Regions from separate parts of the Homo sapiens genome. Here all the other regions are linked to region 1. Evidence: fine-mapped expression QTL. A gene starts in region 1. Each other region holds a variant in brackets. All regions are shown on one strand. Distances are between the middles of the regions. Region 1 holds the start of RIPK3 (receptor interacting serine/threonine kinase 3). Region 2 overlaps CARMIL3 (capping protein regulator and myosin 1 linker 3). Region 3 overlaps LOC124903291 (a long non-coding RNA gene).

Region 1 (2,500 bases):
ATATTTATTGGGTATCTGCCATGTATTGGCTTTTAAGGAGACTACGGTTGAACAATTCCCTAAATAGTTCCAAAATAGCATGAACTGACCCTGCTAGAAGCCATGGTGTGGCTCTCCAAGAGTTGTTTTAGAAAAAACTACAGATCACTTCTGCCTCAACCAGCAGAGCCCATGGACCACTGAACAAAATGGAAAGCAAGTACCAAGGTGAGCACCTTTAGTGAGAGCCAACGCACAACCCACAGGATTGAGTATCCCTGTGAAGGATTGAGTGCCTAGGGCAGGCCCTATCGGGTTCCCACAACCTCCAGTCATGGTCAGACCTCAGAAAGGTAAAATATGGACACCTTTTTTCTGCCCTAAATCTTTAAGACTCTCCATGCTTCTGGGTTATCAAAAGACTGTGTCCAGAGCATGTGCTTGTCAGGAACATTAATTAGGGTATTTGCATGCAAGAGTTGTCATGCAAGGGAGAGGGCAGGAAAGCTCTGAGGTGTTTCCACTGTAGTGTACACCACAATGTCACCAACCCTCTGGATGGGCTGATAAATCTAGCCTTACCACAATGCCCTGGGAGTGGGCTTGGGGCCTGCCACCTCCAGGAGCTCCTGTTCAAAGGGCATATAAGTCCCTATCAATGCCAAAGACTTGCCTCGCAAGAGCAGCTATAGGGACTGGGCAGGAATACAGATAGGGATCCTTCACTACATTGTTGGATGCTTCACACCTTTCCCAGCCACCTGCACGACCAGCTGAGTGGTACAGCCCTGAAGCCTATGTGAAAACAGGATAACTTGATGGTTCAGAGCCATTATTTCCATATGGGCTTAGGCAAGGTACTTAAACTCTCAGTGTCTCAGTTTCCTCACCTATAGAAAGGTAATAAAAGCAGTACCTATCCCCTTAGGGTTCGTGTGAGAATTAAATAAGCTAATATATATACCTGGTGCATGATAAGTTTTATATACGTGTTGGCTATGATCTTAGGGCAGCTGTGAGAGAGCTGAGCCCTAGAACCATAAAACCCTCCTAAGCACCATCTCCACTCATGGCCTGGCAGGTCGTGGAGCAGGAAATCCTGTGGGAAAAGGGAAGGCTTTGACTGTAGGAGTGGGTTGATTGTGGGTTCCTGGAAGGTGAGGACTCCTTCCCTAACATCCTCAATGCCCAGCAACACCTAATCTGGCTGCGGCAGGTGCTCAGGAAACGCTAGTCAAGGAGAAAGGCACTAGCTTTCGCTCTGCCCCCTGCCCCACCCCAGGGGCGGGACTGTAGAGGCGCCTATAAGGGAAGTTGTTCAGTCAACTCGGAAAAAGGGTAACAACCCGGAAAGTAGACTCACCGTCTTGGTCTAGAGACTGACCCCTGCACAGACAGACCCCTTCCCCTCTCTGCGAAAGGACCAAGCCCCAGAAGTCACTCCATCTCCTACGGCTCGCAATTTCCAGAGGCCCCCTGGCACCTTCCAGCCTGATGTCGTGCGTCAAGTTATGGTGAGTAGGGAGTGGCATGTCGATCGCAGCCTCCGACATTCACACCCAGAGAGCCCCACAGACTCGCTCAGAGAACGTCTTTGAGTCCGGGGACGGTGGGGGCCGGCGAGGGAGGCTGGGGATTGCAGTGAGAACGCCGAGTCACAGGGGCGCGGGGAGCAGCGCTGAGGCACGGCACGGCCGGCTAGTGGGCGACACCCCTCTCTCAGGCCCAGCGGTGCCCCCGCCCCCTTGGTGTCCATCGAGGAACTGGAGAACCAGGAGCTCGTCGGCAAAGGCGGGTTCGGCACAGTGTTCCGGGCGCAACATAGGAAGTGGGGCTACGATGTGGCGGTCAAGATCGTAAACTCGTGAGTGACCCCGGTTGACCCCAGCCGCAATCTGGCCAAAAAGGTGGAGCCACTGTGCTCTGGGGCCTGAATGGCGAAGGGAGGGATTTTCCCACGACCCCGGTGCGACTCCAGCTCTCTCCTGGAGTGTAGGAAGGCGATATCCAGGGAGGTCAAGGCCATGGCAAGTCTGGATAACGAATTCGTGCTGCGCCTAGAAGGGGTTATCGAGAAGGTGAACTGGGACCAAGATCCCAAGCCGGCTCTGGTGACTAAATTCATGGAGAACGGCTCCTTGTCGGGGCTGCTGCAGTCCCAGTGCCCTCGGCCCTGGCCGCTCCTTTGCCGCCTGCTGAAAGAAGTGGTGCTTGGGATGTTTTACCTGCACGACCAGAACCCGGTGCTCCTGCACCGGGACCTCAAGCCATCCAACGTCCTGCTGGACCCAGAGCTGCACGTCAAGGTCAGCTGGTCTACACCCCTCTCAGCCTCAAGACAAGGCCCCAGAGCTGCTCCAGCCAGGCCCGCCGGACACTAGACCTCCAGAGCCCTGTCTATTGAATAGGCGTAGCCTCTCTCTCTGGACACAGGGCTGCCAGGGGACAAAGCCCAGCCAGGAGTTTTAGCTCCTGCCTACCAGGTGATAGAGGCCCTGAGCCACACGAGTCATTTCCACCA
Region 2 (2,500 bases), 280 kb after region 1:
GTTCAGGCCTGATCCAGGCACAGGGAGGCTGGGGACTTGGATCAGGGCAGGACCATGGTCTACTCACCTCTCCAGGGCCCTTGCGATGTCCAGGAAGCCCAGGGCAGATGTATTGTTCCGATCCCATAGGATAGTTCTGGGGGGAGGGTAAGCACCAGTTTGGCACCTCTCCTCCTGGGTCCCTACTAGGGGCCAGGGACACAAACCTCTTGGGGCAATAAGGCTGACTCAGAGATGGTTCTGGGGCTGGGGGTCTTCTGGAAGCTGGGGTCCAGAGCATCAAGGAAAGCAGGGAGATTATGTACATATGGGGAGGGGCTGGGGCTCCAGGTCAGGGGGTCCCGGTGTGGGCCCCACCTGAGGGAGGAGTTTATCTGCAGGGCCTTAGACAGCATCTTGGCCCCGATGTCCTCCATGCCATTGCCGCTCAGATCCACCTTGGCCAGGCAGGTGTTGCTGCCCAGGGCATTGATGAGGATGCTGGTGCGAAGCTTCAGCCGGGAGTCTGCCACCGACAGTGACTGCAGGGACTGTGTGGGCAAGGGGCGGTTGGACCCAGTCCCCACAGCCTCCTCCGACTGCAGGTCCCCTCCCAGGCCCAGGCACTCACACAGTCCTCTTCCTGGATCAGCTGCACCAGCTTGTGGAGGATCTCCTCCAGGGTCCTGCAGGGAGGCGGGGCTCAGAGTAGGAGGGGAAGGGCTGGGGTCATGCTATTGGAGGAGGAGAGAGGTGGCCAGAGGTAATACGGTGAGCCAAGAGGATGGGTGAATGATGGGATGAGGGTCTGTGGGCATGGAAAGGGGGCCTCACTTGGCCTTGACATTGAAGTTCTTGCCCAAAAACAGGTGCTTGAGGGACTTGTTCTTGCCAAGTGCAGGCACCAGTGTCAGGAGGTCCGAGTCGAACCCTGGTGAGCAGATGGGAGAGGCCTGGCCTGGAGGCCTGAGGCTGACTGGTGTCCCATCAGGGCTGCTTCTGCATGCTCCAGGCCCCTGTTCTCCCCTGGCCCCAGGGAAGGGAGGAACCACTACTCACCATTGTCTGACAGATCCAGGCTGCCTACACAGGTGACAGCTCCCAGCTGCTCCTGCAAGGCTTGGGCTCCCGCTGAACGGAGCTGCAGGGACAAGGTGAGGTAGGGAAGGCAGGGGTTGGGGTGGGGGTAGGGCACCTTTAATGCTTAGGATATAGTAGTCACACCAGAACTCAAAGTCATGCCAGGATCTGGGTGTAAAATCAGGGAGACTCTTTCCCCACACCAGATCCTTCCCTAGAGCTGGCTTCCCTCCCTTCGGCCAGGAAGGCTGCTATTCCTAAGACAGCTTGCTCCTGC[C/T]CTCTGGTGGAAAAGTCTGGTATCTCCCACCCCAAAGCTTTAAGGGCAGAGATACTAGAGACTGAGAATGAATGGCCTCTGGAAAAGAGGCCAGACTGAGAGGGGAAAGTGGTGGTGTGGCCAGGTCAGGGGGTCGCAGAGGGTCAGCACAGAGGCTAGATGGAGCCAGGGTTTGACTTAGGTCTGAGAAATGCACATGGATCGGAGGCGGGCAGAGGGGTTGGGGACTGAGGGCTCACCTCGCAGCTGCTGAGATCCAGGTGCAGGTCACTGAGGTGACTGTTGAGGGAGAGGCCCTGAAGCAGCGCCCTGTGGGAGGGAGGTCAGCAGGCCCTCCTTTACCTCTTCCCGCTCCCCGTGGTTCCCTTGGATGCGCCCCCAACCCTGCACCCACCCGACCTGAGGGCCTCCAGGGGCAGCTTTGTGGCCGACAGATTGACGTGGCTCAGTGTGTAGGCGCTGCTGAAGAACTGCTTGAAGGCCGGCGGGGCCTCTCGACCCTTCCTGTGGAGAGACCCCTGGGGTCAGCGAGGGAGGGGGTTGGCCATGTCTTGCCCTGTCCTCCCTTCCCCCTCCTCTCCCACCTGTGGGAGCAGCTGTTGCGAGCCAGGTTGAGGTAGGTGAGGTGGGAGCAGCAGCCGTGGAGCAGGGCACCGAGAAGCTGTGGGGGGAGATATGGTGGGTCTCAGGGGAGCTGGAAGGGGGTAGGGGGTGGCAGGAAAGGACTCCCCCTCCCTCCCCATCGAGGTTCCTGGCTCTTCATTCTCTGTGGTCAGCCTGTGTGAGCTCCACTGGAGATGCCCACTCAGATTCTTGAAGTCTCTGTTTTCTCCCCTGTGGAACATGGGTCTACTCCCTGCCTGGCTTCCAGGGGCATGAAGCTGCTCACAGGCAGTGGATGTGTAAAGCCAGGGCCACCACTGACTCCTAAGGTGCCTTGTTCAAGTTAGGAAAAGCATCCATTCCCCTGGTGGAGCCAGGGTGCACAGCTGGGGAAGGGAGCAAGGGCTGGCTTTTAAGCACAGCAAGCACAAGCTTGTGACCTGGATAAAGTGCCACACAGGTATGAACTATGGACATTGCTTTATACTTCAGCTGAACCTGAAGTCATCTAGACAGCTCTGCCCGCCTGTGTACTCAGGGATAGGGGGTGAGACCGAGGCC
Region 3 (2,793 bases), 26 kb before region 1:
TCTTCCGCCTCCCTTGCCTGGGGCTACTCTGCCCGGGCCTTCTGGAAGTCTTTGCGCTGCCGAATCAGCGCCTCCATCAGCCATTCCTCCAGGACCCCCAAAGATGAAGAACGCTTAGCCAGCCTGGATGCCTCTGGGAGCAGTCCGAGCCAAAGAGGCTTTGAGAACTGTCCCTAGGCCCACAGCCCTTGATGGGCGTAGATCCAGGCCAGGCTTTGCCGCTGCCCTTGTCCCAGCCACCCAGAGGGGCCGTGAATTAGCCTCCACGGGAAGTTGGCAGCCTCCTCCCTAGAACTGTAGTCTGGAATGAATCTCTGACCCGATAGCATCCCACTCCGGCTCTTCTAAAAATCCTTGCCAGGTTTACTAGGGGCCTGAAACCTCCGGACCCTGTGGGTTCCCCTCCTCTTCCCCCTCCTTGGCCCCCCCGCCCCCAACAGGCTGGACACCTGTCACCTGGGCTGGAGGAGGAAGGAAGACCTGGACTGGAGTTTCCGGGAAAGTCAGGCTTGGAGAGGCCTGGGTTGTGTGAGAGGGAGTTAGATGGGAGATTCGTGACTCGGTGGGAGATACTGGCGAGGCTGGCGGGTAGGAGAGATGGGAGGGTGGTTATCATTTTCTCCCACACACACACAGTTTCAACCTCTCTTAGAGGCCGCGTCTCCAGTCTCTAAATCCCTCCGGTTCAGGGCCGCACCCCCAACGCCGCCCCATCCCAGCAACTAAACGGTTAAGCGACGGCCCCAGGTCAGACGTTTACAAACACTCAGAAGCCGGGCGGGGACCGCGCCCGTTACTCTAATGAGAAACAGGCTCTACGGGACTGGGGAAAGAAGGGAGGGCTGGCCCGACGGGCCGGAGCTCCGCAGCGGCCGAGGCGGCTTCCCTCCCTCCCCTCGGTCCTCCCTCGGGCCCGCCCAGGGGACCACCCCCCCAGTCCCCGGGGACCCCAGTGACGTGCGGAGCTGCCCCGGCTCCGAGCCCAGGGCCGCAACACAGGAGGGGCGGGGAGAAGAGCCCAGGCCGGCGGGGAGAGAAGAATGTTCCGAGGCCGAGCGGGGAAGCGGCCTGGTTTGATTTTCTTCTTTCTTTTTTTTTTTTTTCTTTTTTTTTTCTTTTTTTTCCTTTGGTTGGTCTCCTCAGGTTACATTTCCCTTCCAGCTTCATCTCGGAAATAAAGGAAGGAGAAACCCACGGGGAGGGAGGACGAGGAACACCTCGACCCATCAACCAGCCTGTACCTAAGAGGGCAAGGGAGGTGGGAAGCGGAGGCGAGAAAAGCAGGGATAGAGACCCCGAGGCCCAGCCCCTGTTCCCCCAGACTCTGCCCCTCCCCGGCCCCACTCCCCGCAGGCACAGCACATGCAGACGCACAC[A/G]TTCTTTTCAAATGTCATATTTCCTTTGATCCTGGGCAGCGTTTCTCCATGTGTCTGGCTCAGCTCCTGCCCAGCCAACCGCCTTCCCCTCTCACCCCTGTTTGTTTTCCTGGAGAACCCTCCTCCTCCTAGCATCTGGAAGGCCCTGAGGGCTGGCGTCGGCCCTCATTCCCCTGATGACTCTGGCCTCTCCTCCCATGACTCAATTTCCCCTTCATGGGTGTTGGGGGGTAGGGAAGGGAGGAGCAGAGGGGAGAGTGGTTGAGATTGTTCAGAGTGCCAAGCTTCTCTGAGGCGGGGGGCGGGGGGGCATCCCCTTGACTCTGAAAACCCTCCAATCTGTCTCGGCTGCGGCAGAGAGATGGAACTTATGACTTCTGAAATGCTCGGCCTGGCGTTGGAGCCTGGGCAACAGCGGGTAGTTGCGGATTTAAGTTGCCCTACACTTCTGCCCCCTGGCGACCAGAAAGACCCAGCCCCCCCGTCCTTGGTTCGCGGTTTCTCTAGCCGCCTGGCCTCGGTCTCAGCTCCGCTGCCTCCTAGCGCACATACCGGAGCACAACCCGGCTTTCTTACCTTGGTTGGTGGCTTCTGCTCTGCACTTTAACAAGCATCATTCAACTTCCTTGGAGGTGGATGTTATTTATTTCTTTTTTTAATTACACAAGATGCAGTCTTCTCTTTTCCCCAGAGGTCTAAATAAAGCTAATTAATATGCATTCTTCTTGTAAACAATTCAAGCTATACAAAAATATGTAGTAAACCTTGATGGTCCACCATTTTGTATGCCTTTATTAACATGTACGCACACACACATGCTCTTTTTATGCGCGTGACAAGCATTTTTCTTGCTTTTTTTTTTCCTCACTTAACAAATGGTTGGAAGATCTTCTCCCATAGTACCATCTGAAAATGATGATGAAAATGCCCACCTTTTCAGTAGATAAAGTGACTTTTACAAATCAGGTTAGCAATAGAGTTGATCTGGAACCCAGGCCTCCTGGGTCCTTGTCAAGTTTGCTAATTCATTCCATCACATTTTACACAGGAATCTGTCCCAGGCTTGGCTCCTCCAGTAAGTAGAGCCTGAGACAAGAACAGGATGTAGGTAGTTTATAGTGAAAAGCAATCAGAAGGAACAGAAAGAGAAGAATGGAAAAAGTGAAACTGGAAAGAAGAAAAGCCAGTCCAAGGGTGTGCTACAGAACAGGTCACCACTCTGAGCAACTGGGATATTATCCTACTGAGACCATCTGTATAGCCACAGAGAATGTAATTGAAGAGAAGAGGCCAGCCTTGTCTCTACTAAAAATAAATTTTAAAAGGCCGGGTGCAGTGGCTCACCCCTGTAATCCCAGCACTTTGGGAGGCCAAAGCAGGCAGGTGGATTGCCTGAGGTCATATACACAGATATACT

Evidence for each region.
Region 2: its variant is fine-mapped to the expression of RIPK3 in whole blood (TOPMed, PIP 0.96).
Region 3: its variant is fine-mapped to the expression of RIPK3 in fibroblasts (GTEx, PIP above 0.99).

What each region holds. Positions count from the first base shown.
Region 1 is chr14:24,338,800-24,341,299 of GRCh38, reverse strand. RIPK3 (receptor interacting serine/threonine kinase 3) reads left to right here and starts at 1,309. Exons shown (of 10, transcript NM_006871.4): 1 at 1,309-1,493; 2 at 1,703-1,843; 3 at 1,976-2,285. The coding sequence starts at 1,474. RefSeq lists enhancers at 1,354-1,423, 1,444-1,643, 1,874-1,943.
Region 2 is chr14:24,057,300-24,059,799 of GRCh38, reverse strand. CARMIL3 (capping protein regulator and myosin 1 linker 3) reads right to left here. Exons shown (of 40, transcript NM_138360.4): 15 at 1,921-1,997; 16 at 1,736-1,840; 17 at 1,576-1,645; 18 at 1,039-1,120; 19 at 814-910; 20 at 611-665; 21 at 358-530; 22 at 68-136. Among named protein-coding and RNA genes, the nearest start is that of CARMIL3, 6.5 kb to the right of the region's middle. The variant C/T (reference allele first, on the strand shown) is at 1,337.
Region 3 is chr14:24,364,878-24,367,670 of GRCh38, reverse strand. LOC124903291 (a long non-coding RNA gene) reads left to right here. Exons shown (of 2, transcript XR_007064085.1): 2 at 1,144-2,155. It also overlaps a transcript of NFATC4 not described here. Among named protein-coding and RNA genes, the nearest start is that of NFATC4, 1.9 kb to the left of the region's middle. RefSeq lists a silencer at 747-1,056. The variant A/G (reference allele first, on the strand shown) is at 1,377.